Regions from separate parts of the Homo sapiens genome. Here regions 2, 3 and 4 are each linked to region 1. Evidence: fine-mapped expression QTL. A gene starts in region 1. Each other region holds a variant in brackets. All regions are shown on one strand. Distances are from middle to middle. Region 1 holds the start of ZNF425 (zinc finger protein 425). Region 2 has its middle 9.7 kb from the start of CUL1. Region 3 overlaps ZNF282 (zinc finger protein 282). Region 4 overlaps ZNF425 (zinc finger protein 425).

Region 1 (5,647 bases):
TTTTCCTTTCTTGTCCAAATTTCTAACTAAGGGACATAGGAAATCATGCCCTACAAACTATAAAAATCTCACCAGAAGGGTTTTATTTAACCCTATATAACCGCTTAGTTTCCAACCTGACTCTGGCATAACATTGCATGACAAAGAAGGAAATCAAAATATTTTATCCCCAAATATGCTTCTTTGCAGTATATATTATATATTTATATGAAAATATAGGGCCAGGCACAGTGGCTCATGCCTGTAATCCCAGCACTTTGGGAGGCCGAGGTAGGTGGATCACGAGGTCAAGAGTTGAAGACTAGCCTGGCCAACATGGTGAAACCCCATCTCTACTAAGAATACAAAAATTAGCCCAATGTGGTGGCACATACCTGTAATCCCAACTACTTGGGAGGCTGAGGCAGGAGAATCGCTTGAACCTGGGAGGCGGAGGTTGCAGTGAGCCAAGATCACACCACTCTACTCCAGCCTAGGCAACAGAGCAAGACTACGTCTGGAAAAAACCCAACAAACAAACAATATATATATATATATAATTTTATTTTATTTTATTTTATTTTTTTGAGACAGAGTCTCCCTCTGTCTTCCTCTCTCACCCAGGCTGTAGTGTCAGCACAATCTGTGCTCACTGCAACCTTCGCCTCCCAGGCTCAAGTAATCCTCCCACCTCTGCCTCCCAAATAGCTGAGATTAACGTCTTTGCCACTGTGCTGACAAAATCTTGTATTTTCTGTAGAGATGGGGTTTCGCCATGTTGCCCAGGCTGGTCTTCAACTCCTGTGCTCAGGCAATCCTACTGCCTCAGCCTCCCAAAGTGCTGGGATTACAGACGTGAGCTACTGCGCCCGGCCAGAGAATCTAGCACCTTTTAAAGGTTTAAATAGGAAATTTTTGCCATCTAAAGACAGTCACTATGAGACATCCTAAGAATCTTGGTCTCCACAACCCCTTATCTTAACCCAGACACTCCTTTCTATGAACCTGGTCTTCAGATAGCCAATTGCCAATCAGAAAATCGCTGAATCCGCCTGTGACCTGTAAGCACCGCTTGGAGTTGTCCCGCCTTTCCTGACAGAACCAGTGTACACTTTACATGTATTGACTGATGTCTTAAGTCTTCCCAAAACGTGTAAAATCAAGCTGTAACCCAACCACCTTGGATACATGTTCTTAGGACCTCTTCAGACAGTACCTTGGCCTTCCTCACTCATATTTGGCTCAGAATAAACTTCTAAATATTTTACAGTTTGACTCTTCGTAAACATGGATGAATCACAAAAGCATTACGCTTTTGAGGAGCCAGTCACAAAAGGTTATATCATACTGTATGATTCCATTTATATACCATTTCTAAAAAGAGAAAACTAGGTTTCAAGAGCAGATCAGTCCTTGCCAAGGATCCAGGTGTCGGAGGGAGTGACCATAAAGCAAATGAAGCACAGAAGAGAATGGCAGCACAAGGAGTTTCAGGGTGGGACAGGGCTCTTCCGTATCCTGGTTACAGTGGTTACTACACGTATACATACATATGTGAAAATTCATAGAACTTTACACCCAAAGAAACGTTAGTTTTTTTGTTTGTTTGTTTTTGGTTTTTTTGAGATGGAGTCTCCCTCTGTCGCCCAGGCTGGAGTGCAGTGGCGCGATCTCGGCTCACTGCAAGCTCCGCCTCCCGGGTTCACGCCACTCTCCCGACTCAGCCTCCCTAGGAGCTGGGACTACAGGCGCCCGCCACAACGCTCGGCTATTTTTTTTTTTTTTTTTTTTGTATTTTTAGTAGAGACGGGGTTTCGCCGTTAGCCAGGATGGTCTCGCTCTCCTGACCTCGTGATCCGCCCGCCTCCGCCTCCCAAAGTGCTGGGATTACAGGCGTGAGGCACCGCGCCCATCCGAAACGTTAGTTTTAATGTAAGGTTTTTTTTTTTTAACCCTTTAATCAGTAAGGTGCATCTACATTTCACGATTCCGGGACAAATACAGATGTGCACACGCTCCTCAGCCTATGCAGGGACTACTTTCTCATGGACATCCTTTCTAACTACACACTTTTCATTTGTTACTTTAGCCTGACACCTAAAACATGACTAGGACAGAATGCGAGGTTGATTTTCTGGGGACAGTCGCCACCCCCTTCCTTGCCCTCTCTCTCCTTTCTGTCTCTCCCTGGTTTCCCCTTCTGCGTCTTCCCACCTCTCCCGTTTTTGCGTCTTCGTGTTTCTCACGCCCTGTGTCATGGCCTCCTCCGTCTTCTCCCGCTCTGTCACAGTCTCCCGCCGGGGGCTAGGGGTGCCCGGCCCGCATCCCTGGGCGACCCTGAGTCCCCGCAGGCGGCCCCGAGGCCGGGGTGGCTTCCGCATGGGGTCTCTGCCCGAGGCCTTTCTCTGCCAAGGAGGGAGTGTGGACGCTCGGGGAGCCCAGAAGGGCGCTGCACCCACGGGGACCGGACGTGGTGGGCGGACCCCTCCTCCGCGTCCCCGACGGGACATGCCCGGGGCCCACACGGCCTCCGCGCCCCCGGCGGGACGGACACCCCGGGCCACCGCGCGCCCCCCACCACCTACCCGGCCTCGCTGGATTCCCGGGACCCCCTCACAAACGAAACCCTCGAGCTCATCCCTGACTTGGGGGCAGCTTTGGAAGGAACAGCACCGGACTCTCACCCTCTCGCTGCCTCTCAGTCCGGGTTTCTGTGGAGCGCGTCTCCCAGTCGCTGTCCCTACTCTCTCCCTGTTCCTGCTCTCTCCATGTTCACCTGCCCCTCCGTTTCCCCTCCCGTCAGCTCCCTCATCTCGTCTTCGACCGCATCCCTCGCATGCAGATCCGGGAGTCCAAGGGTCCCTCAAAGACCGGCGTGCTGCGGCCCGCACGGAGGGTGCCCGGGCCCCTCCTCTGAGGACCGACTCCCTCTGGCGGCGCCGCTCCTCCCGCCCGCAGGGGGCGCTATGGGGCGGAGCGGCTTCCGCTTCCGAGCGCCGAGTCCCAGCATGCACCGCGCCCGGCCGGCTCTGCCTTTGGGGGCCAGCAGGGCTGTACCTGGGAGTTGGGTTGGGGCGGAGCGGAGGGGAGGCCGTGCCAGGCAGGGCCGGTTCGTGCGGAACCGCCATGGCCGAGCCGGCTTCGGTAAGAAGGGCCGGTGGAGGATGCAGGCTCTGTCGAAACTCGGGTCCCTGTCGCAGCTGGATTGGGGTCCGCGTCCAGGGAGTGGGGCGGCCGGGGCCTGGGCCTGGGGGTTGGCAGTGGCCCACGGACTGAGCTCCGGGCTGGGCTGGAGAAGGTGCAGTCTTGCTGCGTGTGCTGTTCTGGAATTGACCTGGGGAAAAGCTGGTCTGGCCGGGCTTGGCCGCGCGCGTCTGTGGCCCCGGCCACTCGGAAGGCTGAGGCGGGAGCAGCGCTTGAGCCCGGGAGCTCTGCGCTGTATATGCGCTAGGTCCGTCGCGCGGTGCCTCTGAGTTCTGCATCTGTGTGGTGACCTCTCGGGAGCGGGGACCACCAGGTTCCCCAGGGAGGGGGAACCGGCCCAGCTCGGAAACCGAGCAGGGCAAAACCCCAGTGCTGATCGTTAGTGGGATCGCGCCTGTGAATAGCCACTGCCCTCCAGCCTGGGCAACAGCCAGACCCCGTCTGTTTAATACATAAATAAAAGTTGGTTTGGGAGAAAGAATCCGGGTGGGAAAGATCTGTTTCTCGGCCTGTTGTAGGCTCAGATCAACAACGCTGTCCCTGCCTTCAGTGTCGGGGCTCTGAACCTCGGGGTCTCTCTGGGGCCCGTGCTCTCCTGCTGAAGGTAGTTTCAGAGAAGCACATCAGTGTTAAGCAGATGAGAAAAAGGAGAAGGAAAGCTGGAACTGAGAGAAATTGGAGACCGCTCCCTCTAGGAAAGGACAGAAAACTTAAAATGAATTGGGTGGTTAGCGTAAATCGAATTTACCGTAAATGCTGTAGTATTGTAATGTAGTATTGAAAATTTGAGCACCGGTTTTAGAGTTTGAAAGGCGTATCCTGAGGCTTAATCCAAGAAACCCTGTTACATTCAGTTAAGTATAACTTGCTTAAGTGTGCAAGTTTTTCTTGTGCCCCCAATGAAATTTTATAATCTTAGGAATGTAATGCTCCTTATTTGCATTTGATTCTTCCCTTTTGCTTCCCACTCCTTTTCCCCACCCTCCTTTGGCAGGTACAGATTCTTTTCTGATTTCTCCAAGCTTTGTTTCTACAGCCAGGCTTTCTTTTTTTCTCTCCTCTTTAAGTGATTGGGAATCTCCTGGAATATTCCTCTCTGTTCTGGGAAAGTTTGTGGTAGCTCTTCTTTGTACATTGAATTTATAGAAAATGTGGTAACAGTTTATTGGCTAATGTATTATTTGGGATAGGCAAGGAAAAATCGTTTTCTTGATTTTCCTTTCCACTGTAGCAGTTTAATGCTAATTGTAAATGTGGTCATAAATGGGAATTTTATAGGTGGAAAACACATGGGTGGCCGGGCGTGGTGGCTCACGCCAGTAATCCCAGCACTTTGGGAGGCTGAGGCGGGCGGATCACCTGAGGTCGGGAGTTCGAGACCAGCCTGACCAACATGGAGAAAGCCCGTCTCTACCAAAAATACAAAATTAGCCTGGCATGGTGGTGCATGCCTGTAATCTCAGCTACTGGGGAGGCTGAGGCAAGAGAATCGCTTGAACCCAGGAGGCAGAGGTTGAAGTGAGCCGAGATCGTGCCATTGCACTCCAGCCTGGGCAACAAGAGCGAAACTCCGTCTCAAAAACAAAACCAACAACAACAACAACAACAAAAAAATATGGGTGAGGTACAATAAAACTGTAGAGGAATTTGGTTGAAATCACATTGTAAAAATAACAAGGCCATCCGGACGTGGTGGCTTACGCCTGTAATCCCAGCACTTTGGGTGGCCAAGACGGGCGGATCATGAGGTCAGGAGATCGAGACCATCCTGGCTAACACGGTGAAACTCCCTCTCTACTAAAATTACAAAAAATTAGCCGGGCGTGGTGGCGGGGGCCTGTAGTCCCAGCTACTTGGGAGGCTGAGGCAGGAGAACGGCGTGAACCCGGAAGGTGGAGCTTGCAGTGAGCCAAGATCACGCCACTGCACTCCAGCCTGGGCGACAGAGGGGACTCCATCTCAAAAATAAATAAATAAATAGCAAGGCCAGGCCAGGCGTGGTAGCTCAGGCCTGTAATCCCAGCACTTTGGGAGGCCGAGCCGGGCGGATCACGAGGTCAGGAGATCAAGACCATCCTGGCTAACACGGTGAAACCCCGTCTCTACTAAAAAGACAAAAAATTAGCCGGGTGTGGTGGTGGGCGCCTGTAGTCCCAGCTACTCGGGAGGCTGAGTCAGGAGAATGGCGTGAACCCGGGAGGCGGAGCTTGCAGTGAGCCGAGATGGCATCACTGCTCTCCAGTCTGGGCGAAAGAGCGAGACTCCGTCTCAAAAAGGAAAAAAAAAAAAAAAAAGAAAAAGCAAGTCCGGGCGCAGTGGCTCACGCCTGTAATCCTAGCACTTTGGGAGGCCGAGGCGGGCGGATCAACTGAGGTCAGGAGTTCCAGACCAGCCTGGCCAACATGGCGAAACCCGGTCTCTACTAAAAATAGAAAAATTAGCCGGGTGTGGTGGCGCGCTCCTG
Region 2 (5,647 bases), 440 kb after region 1:
TAAGGCCTTCCACCAATTTGATGAGGCCCACCCACATATGGATGGCAAGTTGCTTTATTCAAAGTCCACCAATGAGGCCAGGCACGGTGGCTCATGCCTGTAATTAATCCCAGCACTTCGGGAGGCCGAGGTGGGTGGATCCCTTGAGGTCAGGAGTTCGAGAACAGATTGGCCAACATGGTGAAACCCTGTCTCTACAAAAATACAAAAATACAAAAATAGCGAGGCATGGAGGCGCACCTCTGTAATCCCAGCTACTTGGGAGGCTGAGACAAGAGAATCATTTGAACTCGGGAGGCAGAGGTTGCAGTGAGTTGAGATGGTGACATTGCACTCTAGCCTGGATGACAGAGTGAGACTCTGTCTCGAAAAGAAAAAACAAACAAAAATAAATAAAACAAAGTCCACCAATGACTGTTAATCTCATCCAAAAAACACCTTCACAGAAACATCCAGAATAATGTTTGACCAAATATCCAGGCACCACGGTCCGACCAAGTTGACGCATAACATTAAACACCACAAGAACTACGTGGGATACCCCGGATGTAGCAAATGGGATATTCTTTCTTTAAAAAGTAATTTATACTTGGCCGGGCGCAGTGGCTCACACCTGTAATCTCAGCACTTTGGGAGGCTGAGGTGGGCAGATCACTTGAGTCAGGAGTTCGAGACCAGCCTGGGCAACATGGTGAAACCCTATCTCTACTAAAAATACAAAAATTAGCTGGGCGTGGTGGCAGGCACCTGTAATCCCAGCTACTCGGGAGGCTGAGGCAGGAGAATCACTTCAACCTGGGAGGCGGAGGTTACAGTGAGCCAAGATCACACCACTGCACTCCAGCCTGGGTGATGAAGTGAGACTCTGTCTCAAAAAAAAAAAGTAATTTATACTCATTGCCTCAAGTTTCCTACCTCCTAGTGACTCAGCCCATCTCTACACACCTACTAAGTTCAACAGTTCCTCTCCTGCATTTGATGTTCGTTCTACCTGCCCCTCCATCATGAAACCACTCATCCTTTGACTCCCAGACTCTTATGCCCTCATGGCTTTTCTAGCTGATAAATCTTTCTGCATCTGGCTCTCTTCCACCCTCCTCTTAAATGTGGGTTCCTGAAGGTTCCATTCTTGGCCATCTTTTCTTGCTACATCTTCTTCTTGTGTGATCTTGTCAGTTTCACTTGTCATCTATGTCAAGTTATCATCTCCGACTTTATTCAGGGACACTTCTAGGTTTCATGGTGCTTGAAGTTTATATAATTTAACACAGGAGTACTCTTTAAGAAAATGTCTATGCTAGGATGGCTAGCAATAACTTAGTTACACACGGAACTCCCCTAAATGTATCCCATGAAGCCCAACCTATATTGTATCTCAAACTTATCTTGCCCCTAAACAGGTCCCCCAAAATGCCTAGAGGACTCCAGTGCCACCTGACCTGGGGGGACGTGTGAAGAAGATGTTAGGGTGGAAAGAGGTAACAGTCTTGGTCTTAATCACATCAAAAATAACCTACTTTTGAAATTTTTACAAAAAAGAAACATGACAACATGAACATATTGCTAAGGCCCTTGCCAGGTGCTTGGAAGACCCCATGCGGGTGAGGAGAGCTGAAGTTAACGTTTGCTACCTTCAAGAGTAGCGGTCCATCTCTGTCTTCAGCTTGACCTCTCCCACACTTCAGGTCTGATTTTCTAGCTGCTTGCCAGACCTCTCTACTTGAACGTCCCTCATATTTCAAACCATTTGGCCTCAAATAAAGACCATTATTCCTTATTCTACCCCTGACCCATCTCATATCTTTTCCTTTGTTTTTCTGTCTCTTATATTGGCATCACCATCTGCCCAGTTATTCAAGTTAGCAGCCTCAGTTATTTCCTGTTCTGCCCTTTCCCTGCTCCATTTGTTTATTAGATCCCATTGAGTTTGTTCCTGTATTTGCTTTCATTTGGACTGCTGAAAGGGCCTCCTCACTGTCTGTCTGCCTCTGGTCTCCTCCAATTCATCCTCCACACAGCTGTGGAGCTATTTTTCTAAAATATGGTCATGACTTCCTCAAGAAGCAAGACAGC[A/T]TGGGCTCTGGAGCTAGCACCCAGGTTTAAATCTTGGCTCTACTGCTTACTTCCTGTTTGACTTTGGACAAGTTATTTAATCTGTCTATGACTCAGTTTCCTACTTATAAAATGGGAATACTGGCCAGGCGTGGTGGCTCACACCGTAATCCTAGCACTTTGGGAGGCTGAGGCAGGCAGATTGCTTGAGCTCAGAAGTTCGAGACCAGCCTGAGCAACACAGTGAAAACTTGTCTCTACTAAAAATACAAAAAAAACTAGCTGGGCGTGGTGGCAGGCGCCTGTAATGGGAGGCTGAGGCACGAGAATTGTTTGAACCCCGGAGGCAGAGGTTGCAGTAAGCCGAGATCGTGCCACTGCGCTCCAGCTTGGATGACAGAGTGAGACTCTTCTCAAAAAAACAAAACAAGACAAAAAAACAGGGAATAGTTGACACTTCACAGGAGATTTTAACAAATAAATTACAGCATTTCTTGGTGTTGGATATTTGATACATAGAAAACATTAGTATGTTATTATCACTGTTAATATAGCTATCAAAAACTTTTGATGGGACCGGGCACAGTGTCTCACGTGTATAATCCCAGCACTTTGGGAGGCCAACGTGGGAGGATCGCCTGAGGTCAGGTGTTCGAGACCAGCCTGGCTAACATGGTGAAACCCTGTTTCTTCTAAAAATATAACAGTTAGCCGGGTGTGGTGGCACACGCCTGTAATCCCAGCTACTCTGGAGGCTAAGGCAGAAGAATTGCTTGAATCCGGGAGGGAGATGAAGGTTGCAGTGAGCCAAGATCGCGCCACTGCACTCCGGCCTGGGTGACAGAGTGAGACTCTGCCTCAAAAAAGCAAAACAAAACAAAACAAACTTTTGATGGTTTCACGTACTGGAACAAGACATTCAATAATCATCTTCACGCTGAGACCTCAGTCCCTTTTCCCAGTGTCTGTTCTTGCCTCGTCTCTTCCTAGACCTTGTGCTGCAGACACACTTGAAACCAGGCAGATGCTTCCCAGGCCATTTGGGTGCTCCTGGTTTTCCTTTGTTGGAAATGTCCTCTTCCTTTTTCTTTCTGTGGAGAAATCTCAATCATTCCTCAGGTTCCTGATCCAATGTCATCTTCTCTCTGAAGTTTCCTCAGCCTCTTTGCCCTCACTGTATCCTGGTGTTTCTTAATAAACACCAAGCAAAAGACCTCTGACAAACCCCTCCTCCTCCCGAACTTTCTTTTTTCAATTGCCAAAAATGGGTTTTAAGTGTTTGAGTCACAATTCTTGCATGCATGCTCTCATGTAATACTTGTAAAGTATATCTTGGATTATTCCAAGTTTTTATTGGCATAAATCAGAGAGAACATTCTAGTCATGAATGATGAAGTGTGTTTTCCAGGTCATACTACATTCATGCCAGGAACATGGCATAGCCCATCAACACCATTTGTTTATATGATGTATTTTAAAGAACAATTATAGTATTAAGATAATGTACACAGAGAATTTAAGAAATTTCAATGGCTTTAGAGCTTTGTTTTCTTGGTCTGTAGGGTTAGTTGCTTTTGACTTGATATTCACTCTGGGAATGGAAAAATGGAGCTGGCAGGCTGAAATCATCAATTAACAGATAATAACTAGAAAGATATTATACTGCCACTTTATGGGAAAAGGTACTTTTTTGCCAGTTAATTTTTCTATGGGATGCCAAGGGAGGAGACCGCTTTAGAATTTGCCTAATTTCTCCGACCATTTTTAAAGAATAAAGGTATTTTTGTTTGTTTTTTTTTTCTTGAGACAGAGTCTCACTCTGTCACCCAGGCTGGAGTGCAGTGAGGCAATCTCGGCTCACTGCAACCTCCGCCTTCCAATTTAAGCAATTCTCCTGCCTCAGCCTCCCAAGTAGCTGGGACTACAGGTGCGCACTACCACGCCTGGCTAATTTTTGTGTTTTTAGTACAGACGGGGTTTCGCCATGTTGGCCAGGCTGGTCTTGAACTCCTGACCTCAGGTGATCTGCCCATCTTGGCCTCCCAAAGTTCTGGGATTACAGGCATGAGCCATTGCGCCTGATCTTAAAGAATATATGTTTAATTTATAGTTGAAATCTGGATTAATTTACAGTTGAAATCTGGCTAGTTCTGCTGACAGAGTAAGTTCAGAAATCAAACTCACTGAACAATGAGAGCTGTATGTTATTTTTGCTGATAATGTCCCAGAAACTTAGTCAGTGCTATTAACCACAACTCCTCTGGTTTTGGCTCCTCTGAGGACTGCATCAGCCTACAAGTCTGTTTCTGTGACCTTAACAGTTAAACAAGAGAGAAATACCAACATGAAAACAAGAATTTCAAAGATTCCCCTTGCATGATTGGGTAGGAGAGCAGGAGAGACAACGTAGGTGGGAGGCTGGCAACTAAATATTCAAGAGAAAAACTCAAATTTTCCTCCCAGTTGGGAAGCCAATATGTCTTCCTCATTCTTCTTCTTCTTTTTTTTTTTTTTTTGAAATGAAGTCTCACTCTGTCACTGAGGCTGGAGTGCAGTGGTGCAATCTCAGCTCACTGCAACCTCTGCCTCCTGGGTTCAAGCGATTCTCCTGCCTCGGCCTCCCGAGTAGCTGGGATTACAGGTGTGCACCACCACGCCAGGCTAATTTTGATATTTTTAGGAGAGATGGGGTTTCACCATGTTGCCCAGGATGGTCTCGATCTCCTGACCTTGTAATCTGCCTGCCTCGGCCTCCCAAAGTGCTGGGATTACAGGCGTGAGCCATGGCACCCGGCCCCTGATTCTTTTGTCAATGATATTTCCTTTTATTTTTTCCTACCTCTTTCCTTCCAACAGCTCTAACCTTTTACTAAAGGATTAGAAATGGGTAAATATTCAGTAATCTAATCCCTGGTTATTTTAAGACAGCCGACTTAATTGCCTTTGAAAGAAATGCTCCTTGGACAGTGCAAGGGCACTTGTATTTTGGAGGTACCGGCAAGACAACCTGGAAGAAACTGGTAACAGACAGAAATTTACTCGGAGCCACAGACGCTTAAGACACTTAAGTTTTCCTGATAGAATAAGATGAGTCGATGTAAAGAGTGAATATAAAACTCTAATGGTCAAAATAAAGTGATTTTTTTAAATCCCAGGGTACACACATGTTTGAAAAATAGTCAAGCATTTACCGAGATGTGTTTCTTGAGTAAGCACTTCATAAACCACTTGCTAACTGACCTACTTTTTGTTTTGCTTCCCTGTAGTGAGAAAAATAGCTTTTTAGCTTAGACAAGGGAAGGAAGGGTGGCTCTACCTTGCACAGAGCAGGATATAATCCCATTGGATTGGTGCTACAGGTGTGCTTTTTCCAGCTCTGCTGTCAGTCTGAGGAAGACTGTGGGAAGAAGCAAGGGAGAGGCTCCCACGGGAAAAAGATTGACTCAGGTATCCCAGCCTGTGCCTGGACAGGTGGCAGAAGAGGGAAAGCGCAGGCTCAGAGGCAGCCCAGCCTTTTCCGTTCTGCTGCCTCCAGGCTCTTCCAAAGGAGTGATGGGAGCTTTCAGGACAGCCCCTGGCTAAACAATCTCATTCT
Region 3 (5,647 bases), 89 kb before region 1:
TTCTAGCAAATTATGACGGGGTGATGGGAAGCCCAGAATTTGTAGCCAGCTGGTCAGAAGTGAGGGTGGCCTAGAACCCCCAAATTTGCAGCTGGTGTCTGAAGAGAGAACGGTCCTGTGGAGGCATGAGCCCTCAACCTGTGAGGTTTGGCCAATTACAGGTCGCTGATGTTGGAAGTCACTGCAACCTGTAACTCCCAAATCAGTCTATCCCCAAGCTCTCTCTTGAACTTCAGACTCCTATATTCACCTACTTGATCTGCTACTTGAGTGTCACCTCAAATTTTAATAGGTCCAAACTAGAACTCTTGACTCCAAACTAGAACCAGCAACACAGGTTCTTTTCCAGGGCTTGGCACTTCAGCAAACAGTACTACCATTCACCCACTTCTGTAGGACCCAGACCCAGGAGTCAGTCTTGATTCCACAGCCCCCACAGGCAACCCATGAGTGACACTCTCAAAGTGCATCTGAATCTGTCCTTTCTCTCCCTGTGCACTGCTGCTACCCCAGCTCTGACCACCAGCATCTCTCCACTTGGTCTGCATCAAATGCATGAGCCTCAGACATGGCTCCGCACCCCCCGCCAATCCACTCCTGAAATCCTATAAAAACGTAAACCAGATCATGTCCGATTTCATACCCTTTATTAGTCTCTCTCTCTCTCTTTTTTTTTTTTTTTTCTGAGACAGGGTCTCGCTTTGTTACCCAGGCTGGAGTGCAGTGGCATGATCTCACTGCAACTTTCACCTCCTGGGTTCAAGGGATTCTCATGCCTCAGCCTCCCGAGCAGCTGGGATTACAGGTGCCCGCCATGACACCCGGCCTAGTCTCCTTTCTTGTAAGAATAAAATCCAAACTCTAACTTGGCCCATAGGTCATACATGCTCAGGTGCCTCAGTCTACGGCTCCATCCTCCTCCCCAAAGCCTCCATGGCCCTGCCTTCACTTCCCTCTTCTTGGTCTTCTCTTCCCCCTGCAACCCCACGGCCGGCTCCTTCCCACTGCCAAGGGCACACTCAGTCAGGCACCGCTTCCCCTCGGAGGCCTTTCCTGACCACTCTGTCTTTGCTCTGCCTCATGTCCACACTCCTTCCTGTTCTCCCTGCCATTGTTCTCAGAGCATTGCTGCATCCTGGCTTTACCTTGCCTGCTTGCTGGCCTGCTTATTCATCCTCTTCCCACAAAAGAAAAGGTCTTTCTTCACTCCCAATTTTTTTTTTTGAGACAGAGCCTTACTCTGCCACCCAGGCTGTAGTGCAGGGGCGCAATCTTGGCTCACTGCAACCTCCGCCTCCCGGATTCAAGCAATTCTCCTGCCTTAGCCTCCCAAGTAGCTGGAGTTACAGGTGCCCACCACCACTCCTGGCTAGTTGTTTTTTGTTTGTTTGTTTGTTTGTTTTTTGTATTTTTAGTAGAGACGGAGTTTCACCATGTTGGCCAGGCTGGTCTGGAACTCCTGACCTCAGGTGATCCAACTGCCTTGGCCTCCCAAAGTGCCGGGATTACAGGCCTGAGCTACCACACCTGGCCCTTCACTGCTTATTCTAAGTGCTTACAATACTGTGTAACACATAGCAGGCATTAAGTAAATACCTGCTAAAAAAAATATAAACTATGAAAGGTTGGAACCACTGTTTTAACCCAATGTAGTGAATAATGTGGGAATTTCAAGAGGGTGCTTTCACGTCATATTCTGTGGGTGTTGGCACCTGGGAATGGTGGCCCAGCTTCAGGATCTTTACCACCTCTCACTCCGGAAGCACCTTTTAGCCACTGCACTCCAGAGTCCTAGCTACGCTTCCTGCTTCAGTGGAGGCACTGATGTACATTAACTTTGGGCAAACTGAATCTTCTTCTTGTCTTACACTAACATGCTGAGAGCGAGACTCAGTATACACTCATTAATAAATAAATTCAGGAGTCCCTTTTACAAGAATGTAATATCCAATTGGGTTGAGGTCTGCCTTTGAGTCAAACGGATACCAGTTATTTCCCTCTTACATATCCCAGGGCTGGAGAAGGAAGTTGGCAAGGACAGGTATCCCGTGTCTGCACTGTGTTCTCTACCCTGACTCTTCTCCCCTCCATCCCCTTTCCAGAAGACTCTTCCACATAATAGCATGGCTACCATCTGGCTGTCCCTGGCAACCACAATACTAGGTTGGTTTTAAACATCAAAGAAACCACAGATGACAGGCCAGTGTCAAATTCCAACACTGATAAATAGGAAGCAGGCTCACTTTGGGAGAAAGAACAGAGGTTCTGATAAGAGGCTGTCGTGACTTGGCAGGCAAGAGAACCATTTCCAGATACTCCTATCTCCTAAATTCTGTGCATTTCCTCCCAAATGCTAGGGTTCAAAGGTCCTTCAAATATAAAATAACGGGCTGGGCCTGGTGGCTCCTGCCTGTAATCCCAGAGCTTTGGGAGGCCCAGGTGGGAGGATTGCTTGAGGCCAGAAGTTCAGACCAGCGTGGGTAATATAGCAAGACCCTATCTCTACAAAACATTTTAAAAAATTACTGAGGCACAGTGGTGCATGCCTGTAGTCCCAGCTATTTGGGAGGCTGAGGCAGGAGCATCACTTGAACCTAGGAGATGGAGGCTGCAGTGAGCCAGGATCACACCACTGCACTCCAGCCTGAGCGGCAGAGTGAGACCCTGTCTTTAAACAAACAAAAAAAAGATAAAACAACATGAGGCAAATCATTCTATGATATCCAAACTTAAGTAGGAAAATGGTGGGGTCCTTTGCAAATCCTTGCAAGTTCTCTATGGGCCTTCCTAGACTGCTTTCCACACAGCACAAGTCCCCAAGAACAGGCTCCTCTAGGCCCACATGC[T/G]CCTAGCCAACTGGGAAGAATCAGAAGACAGCATTGAGGGATAAGGAAGGGTTTGGGCAGAATTTCCTGGCCCCAGGTCAGATGCACTAGTTCCTATGCCTTCGGGCCAGGGCTAGCAATGGTAGCCTACCAGCTGTGGAGGAAGAGATGGAGTTGGCTTTCTTCCGGTGCTCACCACCAGTTTCCTGGCTTCCCCCATCTCATCCCACCAAGCCAGCAGTTACAAAGAGGACCGCTTTCAATTCTACTTGAAATAAGGACATACATTGTTCCTATCTCGTTCCTGCCAATTCCTCCAGGCCCACACTGGCTCTTCTAGAACTAAGTTGTCTTATAGAGAGTGTGATCCGCTTGCCTGAGTTTGAAATGGCTGTTCAGAACCAGAAACAACCCATGTCCTCCGCTCTTACGTGAAGTTTAAGCTCCTTCAAGATGTCAGCACTGGGCACTATGGCTCATGCCTGTAATCCCAGCACTTTGAGAGGCCAAGGTGGGCAGATCACCTGAGGTCAGGAGTTCGAGACCAGCCTGGCCAACATGGTGCAACCTCGTCTCTACTAAAAATTCAAAAATTAGCCAGGCATGGTGGCACACACCTGTAATCCCAGCTACTCGGGAGGCTGAGGTGGAAGAATTGCTGGAACCCAGAAGGCGGAGGTTGTGGTAAGCCTAGATCGCACCACTGCGCTCCAGCCTGGGCGGCAGAGTGAGACTCTGTCTCAAAAAAAAAAAAAAAAAAAAAAAAATGTCAGGAAATATGGACAGGGAACACACATGCAGCTATTCTGTTAAGCCTTTGACCAGCCAGAAGACACTAGGTCAGCCATGTTGAGGGCAAGGGGATGGTACTGGGTTTTAGCGAGGAATATTAGCCTGAGCTAAGAATGTTCAACAATCCATAAACATATGCCTAGGGTCATAGGTCAATAAGGGAGCTTCAGAAAGACCCAAGAGACCCAAGTCTGGTGAGACATTTGGTTCCATACCTGTTGGGAAAACAATCCTCCCTTTCTCTTTGAGCTTCAGTGTGTTCATCAGTGACTCCGGGATGGTAGCTCAGGGATGCCTGGGGTACTTCTAGTGTTTTTTGTTTTTTCTTTCAGGTTTTTTTGAGACAGGATCTCGCTCTCGCCCAGGCTGGAGTGCAGTGGTGCAAGCATGGCTCATTGCAGCCATGACCTCCCAGGCTCAAGCGATCCTCTCACCTCAGCCTCCAGAGTAGCTGGGACCACAGGCATAAGTCACCACGCCTGGCTAATTTGTTAATTTTTTTGTAGACCCTGTGGGTCTCACTATGTTACCCAGGCTAGTTTCAAACTCCTGAGCTCAAGAGATCCTTCCACCTCAGCCTCCCAAAGTGCTGGGATCATGGGTGTGAGCCACCGTGTGCAGCCTGGCTAGTGTCTTCCAGCATGTGAGCCACCTGCTGCTGTCAACTGCCTCGGGCACACTGGCTCAGCAATCTCCCGGCCCCTCTCCCTTCCTCCCCTCCCTGCCATAAAGGGTTAAATTGTGCCTTCCCCCCTCCCCACCAAATATGTTGAAGTCCTAACCCCCAGGACTTCAGAATGTGACCTTATTTGGAAACGGGGTCATTGCAGATGTAGTTAGTTAAGATGAGGTCATACTAGAGTAGGGAGGCCCTGATCCAATATGACTGGTGTCTTTATAAGATGGCATGTGAGGACAGACACAAGGGAACACCATGTGACAACAGAGGCTTGCAGCAACGCATCTACAAGCCAAGGAGTGCCAGAGGTTCCTGGCACCCAGCAGAAGCTGGGAGAGGCGAGGGAGGAATCCCATACAGACTTCAGAGGAAGTCTGGAGCAAGGCCCAGCCCACCCCTTGATTTTGGACTTTCAACCTGTGGAACTGTGAGAGAATAAATTTCTATTGTTGAAGCTGCCCAGCCTGTGGTACCCTGTTATGACAGTCCTGGGGAGCTAATACAATATCACACTCCAAAAAGAATGGGAGTGCTTTGGTGCAGAACTTTGAAACGCTGCCATCAACAGAACATCACCCTACGAGGGGTGAGCTGAGAAGAGGACCAGCCTTCGTCCACGCCTCAGCTGTACAGCTCCAGAGAAGAAACCCCAGGGTCTAGGTGGGGACGTTACTCACTAGGGCCAGAGTCTAATCCAAGCTCTCCGTCCATTGAGTCGCGTGGTCCCCATGGGTATGGCTGCTCCTCCTGCTTGATCCATGACAAAATGTCATGTGCTGAGATGAGAGACTCTGTTGTCATGGAAAGAAGGCAGTCTTAGATTTTGTTCAGTTCTACTCGGCCTCCCATCAAAGGTTTGAAAACCATCCCATGCGGTGGCTGCAACCTGCAGGGCATGTTTTGGTATCGGTGTTGCATTTCCAGGCCATCCTCCTTACCCTCATAAGCCCCTTCCTAAATGGACTCTCACTGCTCGATGCATTTCAAGTTGGCCAGAAGGAGGCTTAGCCCAAGGTCTGTGCAGTGGCAGGGCCGGGATTAAAACCCAGATCTCCCAGCTCTGCCACTTAGCCCCAGAGGAACCCATGGGGCCAGGACAGGCCAGAAGAAAGCCCCAGATAACGGCCCTCAGGGCCATGGCTAACAGGTATGATTTAGAAACCAGCGATGGCAGAGGCTGCAACCAGAGGTCATTGATAAGAACCACAGTGAAGCAGGAAGGCCCCGCTTTCCCTCTGCCCTGGGTCCCCTCAATTTCTCTGTGGTGAAGTTGACAAAGTACAAGGAATCCTAGATTCAACTTCTCATCCTCTCTCCCTGGTATGGTGGGTAGGATGAGACTTGTGTCCTA
Region 4 (5,647 bases), 26 kb after region 1:
GTCTTCAGTTTTCTCTCATAGTGGATTTTCATTTTCTCTCAGATGGTGAGAGGGCTTCTGTTTCTTGGAATGTTTCCATATTGCTAAAAATAAATGTCTTCCACTATCTCATTTGTTAAAATGATTACCCATGTGTTCTTTCCTTCTGAATTTTACTTAAATCACCTAAAAGTCCACCACTGTGAGTAACAGGCAGTGTTATTTATCTAACCCCTCTGCATTTTCAACAGTGTTATGTCAGTTCTCAAAGAACTATACTTAACATTAGGGTCTCTGAGGAAAATACCAAAGGATAAAATACTGTCAGTCCACAGCACCACTATTTTTTTTTTGCCCTGTCGCCTAATCTAACATTATAAGATTTTCCAGGCTATTCTGGCAAACCCTCATCTGTCTCTCAGACTGTCAATCTTTGACATTACTCGTTTTTTTTTTTTCTTGAGATGGAATCTCGCTCTGTCACCAAGGCTGGAGTGCAGGGGCGCCATCTCAGATCACTGCAAACTCCACCTCCTGTGTTCAAGTGATTCTCCTGCCTCAGCCTCCCGAGTAGCAGGGACTACAGGCGTCTGCCACCACTTCTGGCTAATTTTTTGTATTCTTAGTAGAGACGGGGTTTCACCATGTTAGCCAGGATGGTCTCCATCCCCTGACATCCGTGATCCGCCCACCTCGGCCTTCCAAAGTGCTGGGATTACAGGTATGAGCCACCGCACCCAGCCTTTGACATTACTGTTAGGATAACTTACAGCCTTCCTTAGGAAATTTGAGTACCTTCATAAATTTTGTGTGTGTTGCACAAAACATGGTCCCCAGTTACCGAAGTCAGAATCTGCTGGGATCAAAGTCGCTACAAGAATCACAGCGTCGGCCGGGCGCAGTGGCTCACACCTGTAATCCCAGCACTTTGGGAGGCCAAGACGGGCAGATCACGAGGTCAGGAGATCAAGACCATCCTGGCTAACACGGTGAAAACCCGTGTTAAAATACAAAATACAAAAAATTAGCCGGGCGTGGTGGCGGGTGCCTGTAGTTCCAGCTACTCGGGACGCTGAGGCAGGAGAATGGTGTGAATTCGGGAGGCGGAGCTTGCAGTGAGCCGAGATCTCACCACTGCACTCCAGCCTGGAGGACAGAGCGAGACTCTGTCTCAAAAAAAGGAAAAAAGAATCACAGCATCTATACAAAGAGGAAAAAGGTGCCGCCTGTGTTTGGGACAGTCCTGTGGGTAGGGAATAGGCTGCTATTTATGTGGTACACCTCAAAAAACAAAACTAAAGTGCCAGTGATCAGATAAATGAAATGCCAACAGTTTAACAGGTAGATTCAGAACTAAAAATAAAATAATGTGAAAATAAAGACATTTTTAAAAAATGCTTTTCAGAAAGAGTTTTAAAAGATAATGGGTGAGGCACGGTGGCTCATGCCTGTAATCTGAGCACTTTGGGAGGCCAAGGTGAGTGGATCACCTGAGGTCAGGAATTTGAGACCAGCCTGGCCAACATGGCGAAACCCCATCTCTACAAAACTTAGAAAAATTAGCAGGGCATGGTGGTGTGCACCTGTAGTCCCAGCTGCTTGGGGGCTGAGGTGGGAGGATTGCTTGAGCCCAGGTGGTTAAAGCTGCAGTGAGCCATGTTTGCACCACTGCACTCCAGCCTGGGTGACAGAGTGAGACCCTATCTCTAAACAAATGAAAATAATAATAATAATAATGAGTACCCCACAGTACCACATGCTGCAGAAAGAGGTCAAAGAAGAAGTTAAAGGATTATAAATGTCAGTGAGAGATATTACCCTGAGTGGCTGAAGCAAAAGCATGGGGCTGAGTAGAACACAGAAGAGAAGGGGCAGTTCCATGACGTAGTTCAGAAAGCACAGGGCTTAGAGTAAGTCCCACAAAATAAAACAGACCCTCGCTCTGGCCTTGGGCAAGACACTAGAGCTCTGTAAGTTTTACTTTCTCCATTTAATATAATGGTGAGGGGAGGGTACCTTTATGAAAATCAGCCACATCTACAAAAATAAATGCTGTTTTTCAGCTATACTGGTAACACAGGCATTCTCTAGTATGAGTTAGGTGATGGATTGCAGTACATGGAGTGGCCTACAGAATCACTCCCAGTCCACACATGGGGGACTGGCACAGAAACAGCAATAAGGAGTGCTTCTGAGGTCAAACCGAGGCAGGAATTAGGAGAAGAAAGTGACCAAGTGCAGGTAGAGAATGGGGAGGAGCTGAGAACAAGGAGGAGGGGTAGCTTTAAGAAAGGAGAGACTAGGCGCCATGGCTCATGCCTGTAATCCCAGCACTTTGGGAGGCTGAGGCGGGCGGATCACGAGGTCAAGAGATGGAGCCCATCCTGGCCAATATGGTGAAACCCCGTCTCTACCAAAAATACAAAAATTTGCTGGGCTGGTGGCACGCGCCTGTAGTCCCAGTTACTCAGGAGGCTGAGGCAGGAGAATCGCTTGAACTCGGGAGGCAAGGGTGGCAGTGAGCTGAGATCGTGCCACTGCACTCTAGCCTGGTGACAGAGGGAGACTCTCAAAAAAAAAAAAAAAGAAAGAAAGGAGAAAGGGCAGGGCGCGGTGGCTCACGCCTGTAATCC[C/T]GGCACTTTGGGAGGTCGAGGCAGGTGGATCACCTGAGGTCAGGAATTTGAGACCAGCCTGGCCAACATGGTAAAACCCTGTCTCTAGTAAAAATACAAAAAATTAGCTGGGCGTGGTGGCAGGCACCTGTAATCCCAGCTACTCGGGGGGCTGAGGCAGGAGAATGCTTGAACCCAGGAGGCGGAGGTTGCAGTGAGCCGAGATCGCGCCATTGCACTCCAGCCAGGGCAGCAAGAGCGAAACTGCGTCTCAAAGAAAAACAAACAAAAAACAAGAAAGGAGAAAGGAACTGTGGTAAGCATTACCTGGAACTTCCCAGATGCTCATGCTTATCAGGAGCCAAGTAGAAGTTTCTATCTAAGCTGTCTTTGCCCCCAAATCTGGTCACCTAAGTAAGGGAGTATAAATTGTTTCATGACCAGTACTCAGATTCTGGAAATAAAGGCCAAGTTAATAATGGACACTATAATGTGAGGATGAACATGAGATTATGAATGTGAAATACATAGTGTCTAGTCAAGAGTAGGCATTCAGGGCTCGGCACGGTGGCTCATGCCTGTAATCCCAGCACGTTGGGAGGCCGAGATGGGTGGTTCACTTGAGGGCAGAAGGTCGAGAGCAGCCTGGCCAACATGGGAAAACCCTGTCTCTACTACAAATACAAAAATTATCCGGGCGTGATTGCATGCACCCATAGCCCCAGCTACTCGAGATGCTAAAATGGGAGAATCACTTGAACCCAGGACGGAGGTCACAGTGAGCTGAGATCATGCCACTGCACTCTAGCCTGGGTGACAGAGCAAGATCCTGTCTCAAAAAAAAAAGAGTAGGCATTCAGTAAGATGTAACCCCATGTTATGAACGGAATCATGTCCCCTCCCCTTTCCAAATTCACAGGTTGAATCCCTAACCCCCAGTGTGACTGTAAGATCAACATGACACCTTTACTAGTCATAAAACTAACACAGGAGAGCCCAGCGTGCACATGACCTGAGCAAAGTGGGTGAGGAGGCAGAGGCTGCAAGTGCTGTGCTCACGGAGCTCCCCCTCAGTGGAGAGGAACACCAAGAATGAGGGAGAAGCGCGCCCACCTCCAAAACCAGCAGCAAGCTATGGCTGTTTGTGTGCGTGACTATTTGGCTGTCCCTAGCTGCATCTGGTACAGCCATCTCTTCTGTTACCACATATGTGCTAATGACTTTCAAATCTATAAATCCATATTTTCAACTTGTGCCATGAACATCTCAAACACAAAATGCCCCAAGTAAGACTTGTCACCTGTATCAACCCTCACTCTACCCCCGTTGTTGTTGTTGTTGTTATTGTTGTTTGAGACGGAGTCTCGCTCTGTCGCCCAGGCTGGAGTGCAGTGGCGTCATCTCGGCTCACTGCAAGCTCTGCCTCCCGAATTCACGCCATTCTCCTGCCTCAGCCTCCCGAGTAGCTGGGACTACAGGCACCCGCCACCACGCCTGGCTAATTTTTTTGTGTTTTTAGTAGAGACGGGGTTTCACCGTGTTAGCCAGGATGGTCTCGATCTCCTGACCTCGTGATCTGCCCATCTCGGCCTCCCAAAGTGCTGGGATTACAGGCGTGAGCCACCACGCCCGGCCGTTTTTTTTTTTTTGTTTTGTTTTGTTTTGTTTTGAGACAGAGTCTCGTGCTGTCACCCAGGCTGGAGTGCAGTGGCGCGATATCGGCTCACTGCAAGCTCTGCCTCCCAGGTTCAAGCAATTCTCCTGCCTCAGTCTCCCGAGTAGCTGAGACTACAGGCGCCCGCCACCACGCCCAGCTTATTTTTTTTTTATTTTTTATTTTTTTGGTATTTTTAGTAGAGGCAGGGTTTCACCATGTCAGGCTCGTCTCGAACTCCTGACCTCAAATGATCCGCCTGCCTCAGCCTCCCAAAGTGCTGGGATTATAGGCATGAGCCACTGTGCCCGGCCTCTACCCTTCTTTGTTAGACTGTTCTGTATTTCCTACCTCTGTATACTAAATCTACCTCATCTCCAAAGTTATAAATCTGATGATGCACCTAGGTTTTCTTACACCCAATCTAGCATCTAGCTCCTGATTCTTCCCAAACAAGATCCTTTCTCGCTATCTCTGTTGTTACTACTTGAAGCTCACTTTATTTATTTATTTATTTATTTAATAGTGTTTTCCTTGACAGGTTTCCTTGCTTCTGGCTTTTTTCCTCCAGTACATTTATCATCCATCTGCCAGATGGGTTCTTCTAAAATGCAATTCTAACATTGGTCCCTTCAAGAAATACTTAGAAGTTTCCCATTTTGGCCGGGCGCGGTGGCTCATGCCTGTAATCCCAGCACTTTGGGAGGCCGAGACGGGCGGATCACTCGAGGTCAGGAGTTCAAGAGCAGTCTGGCCAACGTGGTGAAACCCCGTCTCTACTAAAAATACAAAAATTAGCCAGGCATGGTGGCACATGCCTGTAGTCCCAGCTACTTGGGAGGCTGAGGTGGGAGAATTGCTTCAACCCGGGAGGTGGAGGTTGCAGTCAGCTGAGATCACGCCATTGCACTCCACCCTGGGCAACAGAGCAAGACTGTCTCAAAAAAAAAAAGAAGAAGTTTCCCATTTTATTATAAATGCATTCTTTAATAAGACCTAGAAAAGGCCGGGCACGGTGGCTCACGCCTGTAATCCCAGCACTCTGGGAGGCCGAGATGGGCAGATCACGAGGTCAGGAGATTGAGACCATCCTGGCTAACACGGTGAAACCCCGTCTCTACTAAAAATACAAAAAATTAGCCGGGCGAGGTGGCGGGACCTAGAAGAACCTGTGAGCTGACCCTGACCTGCCGCTTCAGTTTGACCTTCACAATGTGAGCCTCAGCCTCATCGCACAGCATGTATCTTTCTCAAGTGCATTATATTCTCTCATGACTCTCGTCTGTCTGGAATGCCTTCCCTCCCTCACATCACCTCCCTCACATTCCATGATTCAGTCCAGAGAAAAGGAATGTTTTAGCTATATGCTTGTCTCTTCTCCCAGCACCTCTAAATTCCTTCC

The links. PIP is the estimated chance that this variant, and not a neighbour inherited with it, causes the effect.
Region 2: its variant is the best candidate, but not a certain one, in a credible set for the expression of ZNF425 in prefrontal cortex (BrainSeq, PIP 0.79).
Region 3: its variant is the best candidate, but not a certain one, in a credible set for the expression of ZNF425 in lung (TOPMed, PIP 0.55).
Region 4: its variant is the best candidate, but not a certain one, in a credible set for the expression of ZNF425 in nasal epithelium (TOPMed, PIP 0.53).

What each region holds. Positions count from the first base shown.
Region 1 is chr7:149,123,672-149,129,318 of GRCh38, reverse strand. ZNF425 (zinc finger protein 425) reads left to right here and starts at 2,995. Exons shown (of 4, transcript NM_001001661.3): 1 at 2,995-3,123. The coding sequence starts at 3,106. It also overlaps the pseudogene RN7SL521P and a transcript of ZNF398 not described here. RefSeq lists enhancers at 2,016-2,065, 2,729-3,280, 3,281-3,832, 4,080-4,580, 4,581-5,081 and silencers at 2,226-2,665, 3,397-3,570.
Region 2 is chr7:148,686,404-148,692,050 of GRCh38, reverse strand. No RefSeq gene overlaps it. Among named protein-coding and RNA genes, the nearest start is that of CUL1, 9.7 kb to the left of the region's middle. RefSeq lists a silencer at 744-970. The variant A/T (reference allele first, on the strand shown) is at 2,074.
Region 3 is chr7:149,213,141-149,218,787 of GRCh38, reverse strand. It overlaps ZNF282 (zinc finger protein 282), which reads right to left. Exons shown (of 8, transcript NM_003575.4): 7 at 4,974-5,087. Among named protein-coding and RNA genes, the nearest start is that of ZNF282, 20 kb to the right of the region's middle. The variant T/G (reference allele first, on the strand shown) is at 2,847.
Region 4 is chr7:149,097,258-149,102,904 of GRCh38, reverse strand. ZNF425 (zinc finger protein 425) reads left to right here. Exons shown (of 4, transcript NM_001001661.3): 4 at 1-121. Among named protein-coding and RNA genes, the nearest start is that of ZNF786, 9.4 kb to the right of the region's middle. The variant C/T (reference allele first, on the strand shown) is at 2,613.